4 linked regions of the Homo sapiens genome follow. The protein of the gene in region 4 purifies or fractionates together with the protein of the main gene of each other region. This does not show direct contact. Each region holds a gene or a part of one and is shown on either strand. Other genes may lie near its edges.

Region 1 (3,500 bases), on a different chromosome or scaffold from region 4:
GGGGTACAGACACATCAGACTGGAACTGAAGTGGGTCTCTCCCAGGTCAGGCTGGGCCTGCTTTTTCCTTGGGAAGAAAACCACACATTAGGGGGCAGGTATGGGGTTGAACCTGGGCTGAGGGTCCATCCTGTGTCCACACAGAGTTTTTGCGGTCTTGGGGGGTAACAATGACCATGACGGGGAGCTGTGCCCGAGCTGCCAGGAAGCCACTGCGGATCTCCACCTGCTCCTCCACTAGAGACAAGAATGGGTCCTGGGTCAGCCTGCTCCTCCCTGTAAGACACCCTCTACTCCCCCAGGTCCTCCTACGGTGCCCCCAACGGCTGCTCATCACAGGTATTTTTCAACACTCCCCCCCACCAAGTGGCAAAGGTGACGAAAGGGACATCGCATTTGCCTCAACTGGGTGGGGCATTAATCGCCCAACCTCAGCCCAGAGGCAAAATTTTCCACTGCTTGGCACCCCCAGTCTGGTTTCCGGGCCTGCACAAGCTGAGTCTTGCCCCTGGCCCCCTCCCACCATGGGCTTCCACACACCTGGGGAATTAGGAACCTGACACCCTGCTCTCTGCAGAGACCGAGTGCCTCACGTTACAACCAGAAATCACCACTCCCACCCCCACCAAGAGGTCTGAGTATCTGTGCTACACTTCCTAGCTCCGTGCCCTAATACTTCTTACGTGGTATTCAGGATCCCCCTTCTATTCTCCTCTTCCTTCCACAGCCCCCCGCCAGGTAGCTTGCTTACCACCCTATCATTCTGTCTCTGACAATTAAGAGCAAACCATGTCATAATGGTCAGGCTGTTCACCTGGACCTCTTCTTCATGTCAGGCTTAGACATCTGGGGCTGGGGAGGCACAGAGAAAACCTAACACTGCCAGGGAAACCCTTGCCTGCAATCCATAAAGAGCTGTTCTTCCAGCAGTCTGACCCCTGTTCTACCACTTACCAGTGAGCTCATTATTGAGGTTGACAAAGAGGGGGTTGTTCTTCCAATCAAACGTTGATACCAAGAAAAGGAATCGAAGGAAGCCAACCTGGGGGGAACTAAAGGGCTGGAGTAAGCAAAGAATCCAGGGCCCAGCCACATATCCCCAGGCTTCTCTCAGGCTATGGAGCTCAGACCCCCTGGTGTGGATTGGCAGGGCAGGGCATCTTAGAACCCCTTCTGCCACTTGCTCAACCACCCATTCCCATGTAGACTTAGGGTGCAGCACGAAGGATGATGGCTGGCCGCAAGGAAACTTCTCAGCTGGGGAAAAAGTGGAGGGAATCACCTCGGAGGGGTGAAGGGCTCAGGGTGCAGGAAAAGGGCAGCGGCCACCAGATCCAGGCTCTCATCAGCGAAACCCTCACCAAGAAGCTGGGCACGCACCCACCGCTTGGCCAGCCGTGCCACACCAGAGAAGGCTGGGTGCTGCTGCTGCAGTCTGCAGAGAGAAGGGGAGTGTCAGCGAGACTCAGGGCCCCACTGCCACTGTTCATCCAGCCCCTACCCAAGGCCAGCCTCAGTGATAATAGGTTACATATGTAATCTCATATTCTCTTAAGAAATGCACCAAGAAGTTGACCCTAGTGTTATTTCCATTTTACAGATGACAAATATAGGGACCAAGGAGGAAAATCTGACCATAGGGTCACAGTCAGTAAGTGGCAGAGCCAGGATTCCAGAACCTGCCTGACTCCAGAACTCATACCCCTAACTATGATACCATCTGGCCCCTGGAGAGACAGGTGGCTAGGTGAGGAGAATGGGGGCAGGAGGGGGCCTACAGACAGGAAGAAGCTGTGTCAGTGGCCTTACCCGTGCAGGGCACTGGTGAGCAGTGGCAACTGCCTTGTGTCTCTCTCAAGGCGGAGGGAGGCAGCTGTGTCCCTCAGCGAGATCATCCCCTCTGGGCTCTGCACCTCCTTCAGGATCTGGGGCTCCCGCTGATAGGCCACGCGAATCCGAAACACAAATCCATCCTGTTGGAAGAAGGTATGGAAAGAGAAGGATGTGTCAGCCCAGAACCCCGGGAGTACTCTGTGGCCTACAGCCCTATTACCCAGCGTGGTACCCACAGGGGTGTCTTCTTCCACGCCCTGACATCCCTGGTGCCCCCCTTCCCTGGGGACATATCTGCCTGCACCAGCCTAACCTTAAGGACATCCGTGTGCGTGGCAGTGGCACGGCACTGCAGACCATGCTGTTGTGTCAACAGCTCTGCCAGGCGCAGCTGGAAGGCAGCTCGGACCCGCTGCACGGCCTCAGCGTCCTGTGGCCACTGGCCACTGCCCTCCAGGTGACAAACCACTGAGGAAGAAGAGTCAGAGGTCTCATACTGTGGCCTGGAGCTGGAACTATCCCTCCCACTCCCTCCCAAGGGCCCTCTTACCGGTCATGGGCTCCACGTAGGCCGGACAGGGCTTATCGAGCCGGGGCAGCAGTGAGGACCGCTCCCGCAGAGTCTCATAGAAGGAGAAGGCTGGACGGACTGGAGTTGGTGGGAACACCTGTGGAAGAAGAGGGGCTGAGGAATGGGCCTAGGACTGGGAGGGAGTGCCCAGAGTCAGGAGTTGGAAGTGGGGAATACTGGGTGACTGGAGCAGAGGTGGGGCCACTAAGCAGAAAGGTCACCTGCACCGTTGCACCTCACCTCTGTGTAGCGCAGCACTGGGTGAGCTCCCTGAACAGCAGACACGGTCAGTGGGAGACCCTCTAGCCCCCACAGTAGGCGACTGAGGTCGTCGTAGCAACGTACCGCCGCTACCAGGGCCTCCTCACCTGTGCTGGAGGTCTGAGAGGGAGAAGACGGTCAGGAGGCTGGACCCTACAGAAGGCCAGCTTCACCTGGATTCTGCCCCAGCTCAGGCTGCAGCAGAGCCAGCACCGCCGCCTGCTGGACATGCCAGGAAGTGCAAGCTGGCCAAGGCTGAGAGGACTCTCTCCCCGCAGATTGATTACTCTACAATCACTAGCCTTGACCCCAAGACCCTTACCTCTTTCAGGCCTTGGATAAGTGCATCCAGGGGGCCCCCCACATAGTGGACACAGGTTTCTGGGATGTCAGCATGGCTGAAAAAGAGGCAGAGACACAGTGAGAAAATTTGGGGCTATGTTCTCGCTCAACTGCCTGGGCCAGACCCCTGAAAAGGCTCCCCAGCCCACACTGCCTTCTGGAATCCAGATGCCAACACTCACAGTGCCAAGAGGTGGGTGACCACCTGGTGGGGAATAAGGCGCTTCTGGGACATAGAGGCTGCCTCCCAGACCACAGCTTCCCGAATGGCTCCGTCCTGGAAACGCCGAAGCTCCGAGCGGGATCCCCAGAACTGGCGGAATTTAGCAGCCTGAGGAGGCAAGGGTGGTAGTAGAGCTGGGGAAGGAAGGGCTCTGTGGACCCTCCCCAACAAGCTTCAGTCCAGGTGCCATGAGGACGAGCCACCCCATTCCTTCCAGTGTACATGCTGGGGTCCCCCACCTCAGGCTGGTCTGCCTCTGGACCCAGCTCA
Region 2 (3,500 bases), on a different chromosome or scaffold from region 4:
GGAAAACTTTCCTGACTCCTGTCTGGGTTATGTGCCCATTCTATGTGATTCCACAGCCTCTCTCTTATCCCAGTGCTTTTCCCAACACCCAGGCATTGATTGTGGCTACAGAGCCAGCACCTAGCTCATAGGAAGTATTCACTAAAAATGCACTGGTATGGATGGATGGCACCAAATTCTCACCCCCACGCAGGAAGCTGTAGAGCCCTGCACTTTATATGTACAACCCTCTTAGATCGTCTAAGAAGGAATGTTTTTTGAATAAAATTTTCTAATCTTTACTAATGCTCAAAAATTAATGTATAATCTTAAATCAAAAAGCCAATAAGGCTACAGGGCTATAATTTTTCTGACACAGAAAATTTTCCATATTCATTAACTCAACAGCCACTGTTAAGTACTTATTATGTTCAGGGCTCAGGGTAACAGGAACTTTGCAGATACAGTTGTGAAACTGCATACCGTCCTAGCTGACAGTCTAAGGAAAAGATAAGTCACATACACATATAACCCTAATCATGGTAGAGTGCTGAATTATAATGGAGGGGCCAGAAAGTACCAGAAGGGATTGAGAAGTGAGAAGCTCCTTCCCAGTAAGAGAATCAAGAAAGACTTTATAGAAGACAAAGAATTTAAGCCAAGCCTTGAATGACAAGAATGATGGGGGCATTTGGTGACAGCTAAGGACCAGCATAAGCAAAGAGAGAAGTAGAAGGCCTAGGACAGGCAAAGCGTAAGTGAATAGCTCAATATGACTTTCAAAGAGTACAAAAGGAGTGGGAGAAAATATGTTTGGTCAGGGGAGGGTGCATTACAGAGGACCTTGAATTCCTTCTAAGCTGTTAGTAAAGACTGAGGAGGAGAGGGACAGATCAGGAAGATCAGGAATCTGGTCATCTTTTGTGAGAAGGATCTGAAAGGGCAGTGAGATGGCAGTGAACAAAAGTGAATGAACAAAAAATACACCATTCTAGACAGTTCCAATGAACTAGAACGCTGATGTCCAATAAGTTTTGGTAAGGAAAACTCTTTCTCAATTTTGTTAATAATATAGCTTTTATTAGTGTTAATTCTATTTTAAATAATTATTTAAAATTAATTAAAATTATAAGTATTATATATTAGTTACGTAAATGTAACTACATATAATTATAACTATAAATTATAATTAAAATTATTAATTCAACATTTTGAAATTATTTAAATTAAATAATGTTAATTTTAATAATTTCCAAAGAATCTCTGCTGTAATTTACCTTTACTCTTTTTCTTCTCTTCTGTTCATTCTACTAGAATGCCTCAAACATCTTTTCTTCTCACAGAAACATACAATATAATGGACCTAGAAGGAAAGCCCTACCTCCAGCTGTTTCTCTCAACCTTATCACAGACGAACAACTAAATTCAGGGAAAAAAGAGAAGCTGAATTACAATCTTACTGACTGGAACACAACTTCTCTCACCAACTCCACCTCTAGGTATGACTGCTTCCTTTTAAACTGGTTAAGAAGGGCCCATAGGCTCTGAGCTGGAGTATCCCACCTGCTCATCCAATTCGGACCTGTGCTTTTTGGTTTGGAAGTTGGGTTTAAAAGACTAATGGCCATATAATATCTGCATTACAAAACACTGACACCTCATAGGCAGGATGGTTCTGTGGTTCAGTACGGCCACCAGAGAGTAGGCAAATGGATTCAATCACATAGGCCCCATGATTCAGGAAATGCTTTCTCTTTAATGCATTGATCTAAGGCCATCACTAAATGTGGCTTTCTCAATGAAATTTTAAAAGGACTGCTCTCTAACAATATACAACCCATTTTGTTAGTCAGATTCTAAAATCTGCCACACCTCATCTACTGAAAGGATGTAGAATAACAGGCCATGCTGTGATCTCACTGCACTTTGATAAACCCTGCTAATAGGCAGGCCTACCTTGTTTACCAGCTCAATTGCGTAACAATTAACAATTTAAATGTACTGCCTACACAGTAAAGAATAACATCCCCTAATCCAAAAAGTGCTTATTTTGTTTAGGACTAGATTAAATAACAGGAACTTGAAAGGTTCTTCGTTTGTATTAATTCCTCTAATTAGGAAAGAGTAATAGGATACTAAAGTCACATAAAACAAAGGATAATGAAAACAAATGCAAAGAGTTCAAAGACAGCCATCTAATACATGCCATGTCAAATAGTTTTTAAAAAAAGGCCACTATAAATTCACAGCTGTGAATTCTAGTTTGAACATTTTAATCCACAGCTAACCATGAAATTGGGTCTTCAATTTGATGTTTTGTCTCAATTAACAACTGGCAAAGAAGTTGGTAATGTATTTGAACTAAGACATTATTCTCTACCCTGGAAATCTATCATGTTCAAGATCTAATTTCAAGAGGAACCACTTCATATGTGTTGGATGATGAGAAGCCCCCAGTTGGGATGCAGCAATTTTTTGGATTTTCTGAGACAGGCTGTCACCCAGGCTGGAGTGCAGTGGCACAATCTTGGCTCACTGCAACCTCCGCCTCCTGGGCTTGTATAATCCTCCCACCTCAGCCTCCTGAGTAGCTGGGACCACAGGTGCATGCCACCATGCCTGGCTAATTTTTAAATTTTTTGCAGAGACAAGGTTTCACTATGTTGCCCAGGCTAGTCTTGAACTCCCGGGCTCAAGCAATCCTCCCACCTCAGTCTCCTAAAGTGCTGGGATTACAGGTGTGAGCCACTGTGCCCTGCCAGGGATGGAGCATCTTTGCAGTATTTCATTACTCTCAGCTCATGGCAGAGTGTTCAAAAGGCAGGGGTAGGGTAAGGGCTGAATTATGGAGCAGCAGGTCCAGTAAGTAGAAAGGCCACTTCCCACTTAGCCTGAATACATTCTATGAAGTGGAAGAGGAAAGACCTGAGGGATGTCATGGCAACCACTTATGTTAGCAGGAGCATGCCCAAAGCTCAGAGACCAGGAGTGCAGGATAGGCCACTCAGGGACCAGGGGTGCAGGGCAGCAACTCAAAGCCCTAAGTGCCACCAGGTCAGGGCAGAGTAGGCTCTTGGCAAATAACAGTAAATATCAGTTCCTAATGTCAGTTAATGACCCCTGACCTGGCAGATTCCATTTCAGCACCCTACCTTGTCCTCTGTGAAGGAGGCCACCCAAACTGTCTCACTGGTTCTAGGTACACAAAACCCAAATCTGAGAAATCCACTAGATTGGCAGGTAGGATGGAATAATTTATTATTATTATTATTTTAAAGACAAGGTCTTGCTCTGTTGCTCAGGCTGGAGTGCAGTGGTACAATCATAGATTACTGCAGCCAAAAACTCTTGGCTTCAAGCGATCCTCCTGCCTGGGCCTCTGAAGTACTGGGATTACAGGTGTGAGCCACTGTGCCCAGCCTGGAGTGATTTAAAAACTGTTTTCAAATCAACATTTTGAAATAGTACTGTATTTTAGCTTTCGGAATTCTAAACTTTGCTAGATCCGACAAGCTCAGTTT
Region 3 (3,500 bases), on a different chromosome or scaffold from region 4:
AGGAACAGAGATATGGAGAATCCAATAAACCAAATCACTGAGAAAACATAAATACTTTGTAGTGTGTTCATACAATGGAATATTACTAAAAATAAAACAGCAATAAAAAATAATGAACTGCTGACATAGTCACAACATAGATGAAGCTCAAGAACATTATGTTGAATGAAAAAGCCACATACAAGAGTACATACTATATATAAAATCCAAGAACAGGCAAAACTAAATTATGCTGACAGAATTCAGAAAGATGATTACTTCAGGGGAAAAGGCTATTAGACTGGAAGCGGGGAAAGCACAAGGAACTTTCCAAAGTAATGAAATGTTCTATATCTTGATCTAGATGGTGGTTACACATATGAATGTGTATGTGAAAAGTCATTCAGCTCTATACCTCAAATTTTATGTTACCATATATATGTAAACTATACCATAATAAAAAAGAAAAAACTACATATATAAGCATGGTGAAAAATAAGGTCAGAATAAGTTAAACCAGTGTCATCCCACAAGCAATATCAAACATAGAAAATCAGAACAAAAGTTTTAACAGACACTGTATATTCAACTAGAAAACAAACCCTAATAAGACCTTCAAGTACAAAAGAATGGCTTCTTCTCCACTTTAAGAAGATACATAGGCAAGTGTTATTTCTAATAAATGCTACAGAAGTAAATTATTATTCCTAAAGAAAAACAGCCCACTATAAAGCAAAAAATAAAATTTTTCTACACAACAAGAGGAGGTACTATAACGATCAATAAGGTATGACAAGCACTTAACAGAATTTAGAGCACAATAAGTACTCTTCAAACTACCACTACTGTTATTATTATATAATAGCAATAAAAGCAAAATTTTGCTTCAAAACATGCCCAAACCACTGACTGAGATTTCCTTCAGTGCATATTACTGAACTACAGCACTTTTCATCCTAGACTTTTTTTTTCTTTAACAAACATTGAGATCAGCAAATTTTTGACAGCTGAAACATCTGGTTAGAGGGAAAACCAAGTTAACTCCAATTTTTTCAATGTTCTTTTTCCCTTGTTTCCATTTTGAAGCCATATTCACTTACCAATAAATAGTAAATGTATCTTTTTAAAACATGTCAACGGCTTATATTATTAAAAAGCATTCTTTCACATACCAAAGTACATGATGCCAATTCAATTTTTTAAAAGTGAACAGCCTTAGAAAGCTAATCAGAATGCTATATTAGAGAGGTCATTCAGTAGAGACACCCACTAGGAAAACATTAAAACAATAATTTACAATTTTGAATACTATATTAACAGAAAGAAATCACAATTTGGCAAATTTATCCCATTTGGGAAAGTGCTTCCTTAACATTAAAAATGAAGCAAAATTCACAAAAGCAATGACTATTCATATACTTTATCAACAAAGGAGAGAACAATGAAGTGACACAATAAATGTCTTACTGAAGTGGTCAGAGTTCAATAAGAGTGGCTGAACCAAACATTAACTTGATTTTCTAACATTTTAGAATATTCACTGGAAACTTGAATGCTTTAGTTAACCTCAACACAAAAGAAGGAAACTAAAAATTTAGTTCCACAATGTGATAGTTATAATTTTACTCCCATCAAATCAACTGGACCAAGTGTGTCAAAAAGTCAATTATTTGCATTTCAAAATTTTATTTAAAAACTCTTTGGTTCTGAACTCAACACCACATTTTTAAGACATAATTTTTTTGTATTATTCCTACCTTGATATGTACATTTAACAAAGCAGTCTTCTACTTACCTAGATTTTGTCTTATTAACATCTTGCTGCAAGAACGATCTCATCCAAAATTAAATCAAACCTGAAAGAAATACACACAATGACCAAGGTTTAATTTTTTGTTTCAGGCATGAATAACCATAGCTACAATACACTATTATTTTAAATGAAAAAACACAAACCAAATTATATTTCTTGATATAACATAAAAAAACCATTCAACCAGAATACCATCATTTTAATCTTTAGGAAACTATTGCTAAGTGCCCCCCAACCTCACTGCTTTTTTTGAGAAATAATAATCTATTCAAATGAGAAATTGAAACTAATTCTTTTTTTTAAAAAAAATTCTAAATTGTTTTCATTAATTTTAATAGTATGGCAATGGCAATAATTAAAATAATTACTAAAACACACATCTTTCTAGATCAGTATTTATTTAATATTATGTACATATCAAGACACACACCAAACAGCTGAAGACAAAAATGTTATAGTATTGGAACACATAAAAGTATATACACATAAAAGTATATAACAAAGTAATTTGTTAGAGCAACCACAGTAATTATCATAATAGCCAACACTGATTACTTACTAAATGCCAAGCATCATTATTCTAGAGAATAGAATGTATCAATACTCCCCATCTTCAATTTAATCTTTAATCTAGTATAAAGTGACTTCTACACCAACAATCCACTGAACATGCATTTGCCAAAAATATATCCACCATTACTAATTTTACCATATTTCAGAACTTCTGAAAACTCAGTATGTCCCACACTCTACATATCTCCTCCTCCCCATACCTGAAACTAGCTTGTGACTCTTCTAAATTCTCTATTCTTTAAAAAATAGCACCACCACACCTACCTCTGTTCTCAAGCTAGGTTACTTTAACTGTTTTATTTCCAAACTATCATCTCTGATTTGTCCTTCCTAGAACCACAGACCTAGAATTTTCTGCATCGTATCTAGAAAAGATGAGATATTTTCTCTGCCACCCAATGCCATCATCTCCCACCAACCCAGAAGTGGACATGGGGGCCTGTTAAAAACTAAACTATAAAATAAAAGTAAGAACATTAAAAGTCTATTATAAACGACTGAGTGGGATAAGCTGAACTATTGCCCCACAAAAGACTTCCACACCCTGATCCCTGAAATCTGACAATGTTACCTCATATGGCAAAAAAAAAAAAAAAAAAAAGAAGAAGTCTTTGTAGATATGATTAAATTAAGGATCTTGAGAGGGAGGATTATTCCGAATTATCTGGGTGGACCACAGTGCAATCACATGTATCCTTATAAGAACGAGACACACACTGAAGGCAATGAGAAGACAAGCGGAGAGGCCGGGCACAGTGGCTCACACCTGTAATCCCAGCACTTTGGGAGGCCAAGGTGGGCAGATCACCTGAGGTCAGGAGTTCGAAACCAGCCTGGCCAACATGGTGAAACCCCGTCTCTACTAAAAATACAAAAGTTAGCTGGGCGTGGTGGCACGCGCCCGTAGTCCCAACTACTCAGGAGGCTGAGGCAGGATAATCTTGCTTGAACTCAGGAAGCGGAGGTTGCAATGAGCCAAGATCACGTCGCTGCATCCAGCCTAGGCAACAGAGCAAGACTCTGTCTCCAAAAAAGAGGAAGAAGAAGAAGACATGGCAGAGAGAACTGAAAATGCTGCTTTCGTAGACTGGAAGGACATGGGCCATAGCCAGGAATGCCAGCACCCACCAGTATC
Region 4 (3,500 bases):
TTTTTTTTAAATTACAGTTATACATGCATAGTTTTAAAAACTAAACATTTCAGTCTGGGCACAGTGCCTAACACAAACATTATGGGCTCACACCTGTAATCCCAGCACTTCGGGAGGCCAAGGCAGGCAGATCACTTGAGGCCAGGAGTTTGAGACCACTCTGGCCAACACAGTGAAACCCCATTTCTACTAAAAATAGAAAAACTAGTTGGGTGTGGTGGTGCGTACCTGTAATCCCAGCTACTTGGGAGGCTGAGGCAGGAGAATTGCTTGAACCTGGGAGGCAGAGGTTGCAGTGAGCCAAGATCACGCCATTGCACTCTAGCCTGGGCAACAGAGCAAGACTCCATCTCAAAAAACAAACAAACAAACAAAAACAAAACAAAACAAAAAAACATTTCTGTAATCCCATCATTTTGGGAGGCCAAGGCAGGGAGGATCACTTGAGCCCAGGAGTTCAAGACCAGCCTGGGCAACATGGTGAAACCGCATCTCTACAAAACATTAGCTGGGTGTAGTGGTGCATGCCTGTGGTCCCAGCTACTCAGGAGGCTGAGGTGGGAGGATCTCCCTGCAAGGCCGCAGTTAGCCATGGTTGTGCCACTGCACTCCAGCCCAGTAACAGAGTGAGACTCTGTCAAAAACAAAAACAAAAAAAACCTAAACATTTCTCCAAGGTTTGTTAGGAATGTAGGCCATCCCATTGTCTGCCCCTTTTCCTCCCTCTGCCTTCCTCCATTTTCACCTCTTCTCAGACAACCACTTTTGCCTTTTTTGCTGATTATTTTGGTATAAATCTCTCTCTCTCTCTCTCTCTCTCTCTCTCTCTCTGCCCCCTCCCCCTCCCTCCCTCTTGCCTGTAGTCCTACCTCTTAACTTTTTAGTGTTAGGCATTATCTTTTGATAACTTTCCTTTCCAAGGAAGCTATATTGTGATTTTGATTAAGTTGGTATTCAGCATTACATTGTTGTACTTTTGTTTTTTGAGATAGAGCCTGTTACCCAGGCTGGAGTACAGTGGCAGAATCATAGCTTACTGCAGCCTCAGTCTCTCGGGCTTAAGTGATCCTCTCACCTCAGCCTCTCAAGTAGCTGGGATTACAGGTGCACACCACACCCAGCTAATATATATGTATGTATATATTTTAGTAGAGCTGAGGTCTCACTGTGTTGTCCGGGCTGGTCTCCAACTCCTGAGCTCAAGAGATCCTCCCACCTCAGCCTCCCAAAGTGTTGGGATTACAGGCACGAGCCACCATGCCTGGCCTACGTAAGTGCTATTTCCAGCCGAGTCAGTAGTAATCTGTGACTGCATTTCTTGTTCAATCTTTGTGTACTTTGAAGTTAATAATTGTCTCTCTTGCTCGTTTTCTATGTAGTTATCACTAATCAACACCCAATTCTATGTCAGTTCTCTAAGTCTTATTTTGAGGTGTTTAGATAGGTTAGACTTATGCTTATTTACCTTCCTGAAGAAGTTGCTTCTAGAATTTTCTGCCCCATTCCATTCTAGCCTGGTCACCTTCTAATCCCGGGACCTCCCTTTACCATTATCCTGGGGATTCACTTCACCTCAGCCCATGTTGGACAGAGAATTACAAGAACCTTCAGTTTCCTGAAGGAATATAGTTTCCAACCTAGGCAAGCAGTCAGTCAATGTGAGGGTATGGTAGATATTTTCAGACATGCAAGTTCTCAACAACAACCAATTCCCCTTAAATGCTGCTTTTCCTCGGGAAGTTGCTAGGGGAGTTGTTTCTCTAAAATAACAGTGTAAGCCCAGGAAGAGGAAGCGTCCTGGGAAACCTGACACGAAGCGACTGTACTGTGCTGCAAGCCCATCTCAGTCTAGAAGTTCGGTCTTCAGTGCTGGGGAATTTTCTTGAAAGAAAATTTCAATTAGTTTTTCCTGCCATGATCCATAGTTATTTTTTGGCAGTGAGGAATAAGAGAGTTAAAAAACTGAATGAAAACTCTAGGTGGGGACAGGGTCCCTCAGTCAGTGTGCAGTGACTTGGCCACACTGTTTGGGGAAGGACACTGCACATGTCATTGTCTCTTAGGTCTTTCTCTTGGCTGGTCAGGTCCTCCTGCTTGGGGGGGTAAAGGCCTGGCTACCAGCATTCCTAGAACTGACCACTGTAGGTCACAAGAGGTTGGAGGGGTCCAGAGGGCACCTCACCCCCATGTGCCAGCCTTGCCCTCCCCTCCTTGTGGCCAGCACACCTCTCTTGCTCTTGCAGTGCCAGCCTCAGCCAAGCAACTTCTCCGTGGGAAAGGGCTGGGGCCAGGCTTTCCAGAGCTGGGGTGTGATTTTTAAATAGGCTTTCTTTCTGGCTTCCAAATTTTTATTACCCCTATTTCCTTTCCTTTTTTTCTTAAGGGTTTATGCCCTTTTTATAAAGCTCCTTTTCTGTTGTTCTAGTGAAGTTTTAGGAGAGATTAGAAGATACTAGTGTTCAAGCCACCATCTTTACTCAGAAGTCTGTACCAGCCTAACTTCATAGGTATCATAGCATTGAAAGAACTAATTTGATTGGCCGGGGTGCAGTGGCTCACGCCTGTAATCCCAGCACTTTGGAAGGCCGAGGCAGGCGAATCACCAGGTCAGAAGTTTGAGACCAGCCTGACCAACTGGTGAAACCCCGTCTCTACTAAAAACACAAAAATTAGCCGGCCGTGGTGGCGCGTGCCTGTAATCCCAGCTACTCCAGGAGGCTGAGGCAGGAGAATCGCTTGAACCCGGGAGGCAGAGGTTGCAGTGAGCCGAGATCACACCACTGCACTCCAGCCTGCGTGACAGAGCAAGACCCCATCTCAAAAGAAAAAAAAGAAAAAAAAAAAAACTAATTTGTTTCAAATGGCAATCATTCTTCATATATGTTACTATGTTGGAACAAAATAATAATAGGCGTCCCACTCAGGTAGACAGATACCATTCTTCCAGGTAGGACTGTGGTATGAATAGTACTTTAATGTTTTCTATATTTTAATGGTAAAGTTGAGCATGTGTAGACGGGTATTTATAGGACGGATCACTAGCCAGACACTTGTAAGCTCCTATAGAACATTAATAGCTATACCTTATCCTACTTTTTTCCTTAAGACAGCTGTGAAAACAAACAGACTAGGAAAAAACCCTGAGGGAAATATTTTTACAAGCTGGGTCAGAAGAGGTTTTATTTTATAGTTGTTCATCCAAAGCATACTTGTCTTTAGGCAATGCAATTGATTTGTTTTAAATTAAGAAAAAAATCTTAATACCAGCAACATATGTAGTCTTTGTAACATTTTCTCTATTTATTAAATATGATTATTACTTTAATAAATATAGTAAGATGAAAAGTAAATATTTGCCCTTGGGTTTTTTTAACCTGAAAATGTGTAATAGGCACATAGTTATTCATTTGAAATTATCTTTCACACTATCATCTATCCGATATCTACAGATAACTCCAAAATTTACATCATAGCCCCCTCCCTTCTCCTGAGACATGGCG

Evidence for each region. The genes of interacting proteins can lie anywhere in the genome.
Region 1: the proteins of NOL10 (region 4) and NOL6 fractionate together in Homo sapiens (co-fractionation; one large-scale study listed by BioGRID). This does not show direct contact.
Region 2: the proteins of NOL10 (region 4) and SRI purify together in Homo sapiens (affinity purification with mass spectrometry; one large-scale study listed by BioGRID and IntAct). This does not show direct contact.
Region 3: the proteins of NOL10 (region 4) and ZNF644 purify together in Homo sapiens (affinity purification with mass spectrometry; one large-scale study listed by BioGRID and IntAct). This does not show direct contact.

The regions. Positions count from the first base shown.
Region 1 is NC_000009.12:33,463,925-33,467,424, forward strand, and holds part of NOL6 (nucleolar protein 6), read right to left. Parts: coding exon 3,470-3,500; intron 3,339-3,469; coding exon 3,190-3,338; intron 3,064-3,189; coding exon 2,988-3,063; intron 2,786-2,987; coding exon 2,645-2,785; intron 2,502-2,644; coding exon 2,384-2,501; intron 2,302-2,383; coding exon 2,147-2,301; intron 1,974-2,146; coding exon 1,810-1,973; intron 1,436-1,809; coding exon 1,283-1,435; intron 1,053-1,282; coding exon 955-1,052; intron 238-954; coding exon 113-237; intron 1-112. UniProt on the Homo sapiens protein: Part of the small subunit (SSU) processome, first precursor of the small eukaryotic ribosomal subunit.
Region 2 is NC_000007.14:88,213,539-88,217,038, forward strand, and holds part of SRI (sorcin), read right to left. Parts: intron 3,220-3,500; exon of another isoform or gene 3,122-3,219; intron 3,047-3,121; exon of another isoform or gene 2,905-3,046; intron 1,399-2,904; exon of another isoform or gene 1,038-1,398; intron 1-1,037. UniProt on the Homo sapiens protein: Calcium-binding protein that modulates excitation-contraction coupling in the heart. Contributes to calcium homeostasis in the heart sarcoplasmic reticulum. Modulates the activity of RYR2 calcium channels.
Region 3 is NC_000001.11:90,980,536-90,984,035, forward strand, and holds part of ZNF644 (zinc finger protein 644), read right to left. Parts: intron 1,836-3,500; 5' UTR 1,819-1,835; coding exon 1,775-1,818; intron 1-1,774.
Region 4 is NC_000002.12:10,592,476-10,595,975, reverse strand, and holds part of NOL10 (nucleolar protein 10), read left to right. Parts: intron 1-3,500.